2 separate regions of the Homo sapiens genome follow, and region 1 is linked to region 2. A link means that fine-mapping ties the variant in region 2 to the expression of a gene that starts in the linked region. Tissue or cell type: aorta. Region 2 holds a variant in brackets; the other region holds the start of a gene. All regions are shown on one strand. Distances are between the middles of the regions.

The links. PIP is the estimated chance that this variant, and not a neighbour inherited with it, causes the effect.
Region 1: SLCO4C1 starts here. The variant in region 2 is fine-mapped to the expression of SLCO4C1 in aorta (GTEx, PIP above 0.99).

Annotation. Positions count from the first base shown.
Region 1 is chr5:102,294,849-102,297,463 of GRCh38, forward strand. SLCO4C1 (solute carrier organic anion transporter family member 4C1) reads right to left here and starts at 1,436. Exons shown (of 13, transcript NM_180991.5): 1 at 1,060-1,436. The coding sequence starts at 1,414. RefSeq lists an enhancer at 1,202-1,401.
Region 2 is chr5:102,645,684-102,648,298 of GRCh38, forward strand. The region is part of intron 1 of LINC00491 (long intergenic non-protein coding RNA 491); the gene reads right to left. Among named protein-coding and RNA genes, the nearest start is that of LINC00491, 24 kb to the right of the region's middle. The variant T/C (reference allele first, on the strand shown) is at 1,521.

The DNA.
Region 1 (2,615 bases), 350 kb before region 2:
TTTTCTATTAACTTAAAAAATGAGCTGTTTCCAACCCTCTAAAATCTATATTTCTAAGGTTGTATTTCTTCCAATTAATCCTTGACTGATTATACAGAAAATATTCTCGGACTATGACTCAAGTGACCAAAAAATATCTACATTCCAATTCAGCTAAGCTTCGGCATGTCCTTCTTGACTCCTCTCCACCTCTTCTCCACCCTTCCTCAAAGTCAACTCAGGTTAACTTCCTATTTTCCTTCAACCTCTGTATTGAACACACCAGAAGCAGCTTTAACCTTCCCTGTGCCTTCTTTCAAGGGAGCTGTTCTCCCTCCAGGATATCACTCCTCCAAACTGAGCTTAGATTGCAAGCCCCTGAGGGTATAAATCTGAACTGAATCTGTAACTCCCAAGAGAACCTAAAAGAGATCCTAGAACAAAACAGATGCTGGATAACTAATGTAACACAATGAAGATTAAGGCTCAACAACGTCGGGAGCCTTTGCTAATTTACTCACTGGGCTCCTCTGGTGACCACATACTCTCAAACTAAATACACTCACAAAACATGAATGTCTGTATCTAATTTATACGATAGATTTTTCATAGCTTTCTTCCTTGTAAGGCATCCCACTCCCACCTGCAAACGTATTACTCCTTCCCCTGAGGCAATGAAACAAATGTAAAAGTAAAATACCTTTAAAGAGTGCCTAGGTAAATTTTTGTCTTTATAATGTAAAATAAACTCCCCAGGGTATACCTTTCCCAAAGGAAGGTTCTTGTAATCTTCCCTGTAAGTCTTGAATCCGCTAAACTGAGGTAAAACACAAAAGAGAAAAAGGCTTGTATTGCAAGTTTGAACTGTAGTGATAAAGGAGAAGCTGAACTTTGGAAGGCTGGCTGGGGGCCGGTAGGTTGACCTTGGTGAGAGCGCAAGCAAGTTCCAAACCCGGGGCCACCTTGCAGGGCGCGTCCACCGTCCCACGGACCCCGCGCACCTGCCCTCTCCCCCGGCTGGCTCGCCGTGCCCACCTCGCTCTCCACTGGCCCGAGCCTCAAGCGGGCGCTGGACTTTACCTTGCGTGACGGCCAAGAGGCAGTAGTGAAGCAGAAAGCCTCCAGGTGTGTTGCAGCGCTGGAGACATTGAGGATGGAAGTTCCTCCAGCCGTAAGACCCCTCCTCAAACTCGGACAGCGACAGTGACCGGAGCTTCTCTTCGGAGACATTGGGAGGGGCTGAAGGCAGAGATGGCTCTGGTGACTTCTGGGGCTCCTGGGGCTTCTGAAGCTCCTGTGGCTGAGAATTCTCTCTTTGGGGGTCAGAGGACAAGGCAGAGACTTCGATTTGGGAGGGCGACGCAGACAAGCGGCGCAGGATGTCTGGGCTGGAGGGGACAAAAGCCAAGTTCTCAATACCTTTGGCGCTCTTCATGTCTGGATGGGTTCTCCCGACTCCGGTGCTTCAGAGCAGCAGAGCCAGGTCCCTCTCTGGCTCCTCCCACAGGCAGGTGACAGCGCCCCCGTGCGGGAAGCTTCCCGCCTCCTGGCCCTCCAGCCTCCAGCGCACTCTCCGCCACCGCCTGAACCTTCCTACTCCAGCTCGCAGCTGTCTGGAGCGCAGAGCGCTGAGCGGGGGCGTTAGCGCCCCAGCCTGTGGCTTTGGCGCTCAGCTGTGCCTCACCCGTCGCCTCAAGGACCAACCGGAAGGCGCGGCGTGGGCGTGCCACCCGGCGGCGGCCGAGTAGAGGGGGCGAGAGTTCTCACCCCACAGCCTTCGACCGGAGTCCGCCTCCGCCCAAGCCCCTGCGGTTCTGACCTGAGCCTTCAGCCCGCAGCGCGCCTCCCTTGAGCCCAAGCACTGGGAACACACAGAGACTGTGGGAGTCTCTGGCCATAAGCTCCCCTTGGGTGCTGACATGAAACCTGTAAACAGTTGCATCAGGAGATTGTTCAGGAAACTATCTTGCGTTTTCTTCCTTTGCTGCTTACCAAAGCAGTCTAGGCTTGGACTCCAAGAATCAAGACGTCAGAGGTATACTTTGGTTCATGAGCATCTTGATAAGACTCTTGCCTGTCATCCTGTTACTGGTAGAAGGTGTCCAGGTTCTTGGCATCTTGAAGAAAGAATTGAAGAAAACGCACAAACAAAGCAAGGAAGGAATGAAGGGGTTTATTGAAAATGAAAGTACACTCCACAGTGTGGGAACGGGCGAGCATAGGGGCTCAAAGGCCCGGTTACAGAATTTTGGGGAGTTTAAATACCCCCTAGAGGATTCCATTGGTTACTTTGGGTATGCCCTATGTAAAGGGAGAAGATGAAGTAAAGTTACAAAGTCATTTATGGCCTACGCCCTATGGAGAGGATATTTCCTGTTACAGCTGAAGTGTGAATAGGCCTTATGTTTCCTGCCTCCAGACCCTATTTTCCTGCCTCAGTCCTCCTTAGAAAAAGAAATCCACCCCACCCCACCCCCATCACCACCAGGATGAACATCACAGCATAACCACTGCTTTGCTTTTCCTTCTCCGAAACTGAAGGACCAGAAATTGTCTCTCTGCTGTATATTGCATATGTAAGATATACAGTGATGACAATCATGTAAATAATTTCTACCGGGCCAGGCGCGGTGGCT
Region 2 (2,615 bases):
ATCTTACTCAAACTACTCCAAAAAATAGAGGAGGAGGGAATACTTACAAACTCATTCTATGAGGCCAGTATTACCCTGATACCAAAACCAGACAAAGACACATCAAAAAAAGAAAACTACAGGCCAGTATCTCTTATGAATATTGATGCAAAAAAAAAAATCCTCAACAAAATACTAGCAAGCAGAATTCAACAACAAATTTAAAAGATCATTCATTATGACCAAGTGGGAGTTATCCCAGGGTTGCAAGGATGCTTCAATATATGTAAATCAATGAATGTGATACATCATATCAACACAATGAAAATAAAATCTATATGATCATTTTAATTGATGTAAAAAAGCATTTGACAAAATGTGACATCCCTTCATGATAAAAACCCTTAAAAATTGGTAGAGAAAGAGCATACCTTAACATAATAAAAGCCATATATGACAGACCCACAGCTAATATCATACCAAATGGGGAAAAACTGAAAGCCTTTCCTCTAAAATCTAGAACATGACAAGGATGCCCATTTTCACCACTGTTATTCAATATAGTATTAGAAGTCCTAGCTACAGCAATCAGACAAGAGAAAGATATAAAGGGATTCCAAACTAGAAAAAAAGTCATCAAATTATCCCTGTCTGCAGATGATATGATCTTAGTTGGACAAACCTGAAGACGCTACAAGAAAACTATTAGAACTGATAAACGAATTCAGTAATGTTGCAGAATAGAAAATCAACATACAAAAATCAGTAGCATTTCTATATGCCAACAATGAACAAACTGAAAAAGAAATTTAAAAAGTAGTTTCATTTATAGTAGCCACAGATAAAATAAATACCTAGGAATTAATCAAAGAAGTGGAAATTTTCTACAATAAAAACTATAAGACAGTTATGAAAGAAATTGAAGAGGACACCAAAAATGGAAAGATATTCCATGTTCATGATTGGAAGGTTCGATACTGTTAAAATGTCCATGCTACCCAAAGCAATCTAAAGATTCAATGTGATCCCTATCAAAATATCAAAGACAGTCTTCAGATAATATGGAACCATAAAAGACCCAGAATAGCCAAAGCCATCCTAAGCAAAAAGAACAAAATTGGAGAATCATATTACTTGACTTCAAAATATACTACAGAGCTATAGTAACCCAAACAGAGTGGTATTGGGATAAAAACAGACACATAGATCAATAGAACAGAATAGAGAATCCAAAAACAAATCCACTCACTTACAGTGAACTCATTTTCAACAAAGATGTCAAGAACACACACTGGGGAAACAACAGAATCTCCAATAAATGGTGCTGGGAAAACTGGATATCCATATGCAGAAGAATGAAATGAGGCCCCTATCTCTCATCATATACAAAAGTCAAATCAAAATGGATTGAAGGCTTAAATCTAAGACCTCAAACTGTGAAACTGCTCCAAGAAAACATTTGGGAAAATTCTCCAGTACATTGGTATGGGCAAAGATTTCTTGAGAAATACCCTTATAAGCACAGACAACCAAATCAAGAA[T/C]GGACAAACAAGACCACATCAAGTTAAAAAGCTTCTGCACAGCAAAAGGAAACAATCAACAAAGTGAAGAGACAATCCACAGAATGGAAGAAAATATTTTCAAACTACCTATCTAACAAAAGATTAATAATCAGAATATGTAAGTAGCTCAAACAACTCTATAGGAAAAAATGTAATCATCCAATTAAAAAATGGGCAAAAGGGCTGGGTGTGGTGGCTCATGCCTCTAATCCCAGCACTTTGGGAGGCCAAGGCAGGTGGATCTCTTGAGGTCAGGAGTTTGAGACCAGCCTGGCCAACATGGCAAAACCCTGTCTCTACTAAAAATACAAAATAGCAGGGCGTGGTGGCATGCACCTGTAATCCCAGCTACTCGAGAGGCTGAGGCAGGAGAATCACTTAAACCCAGGAGGTGGAGGTTGCAGTAAGCCAAGATTGAGCCACTGCACTCCAGCCTGGGCAACAGAGCAAGACTCTGTCTCCAAAAAAAAAAAAAAAGAAAAAATGAAAAAAAATGGGCAAAAGATTTGAATAGACATTTTTCAAAAGAAGACACACAAATGGCAAACAGGTCTATGAAAATGTGCTCAACATCACTGATCATCAGAGAAATGCAAATCAAAACTACAATGAGATATCATTTCACCCTCGTTATTAAAATGGCTTATATCCAAAAGGCAAGCAATAACAAATGCTGGCAAACGTGTGGAGAAAAGGAAACCCTCAGACGCTGTTGGTGGGAATGTAAATTAGTACAACCACTACGGAGAACAGGTTAGAGGTTCCTCAAAAAACTAAAAATAGAGGTACCATATGATCCAGCAATCCCACTGCTGGATCCCACCAAAGATAAAAAAAAAATCAATATATCGAGGAGACATCTGTACTCCTATGTTTATTGCAGCTCTGTTCACAACAGCCAAGCTTTGGAAGCAACCTAAGTGTCCATCAATAGGTGAATGGACAAAGAGAATGTGGTACTTACACACCATGGAGTACTACTCATCCGTAAAAAAAGAACAAGATTCAGTCACTTGCCACAACATAGATGAAACTGAAGTTCATTACGTGAAGAGAAATAAGCCAGGCACAGAA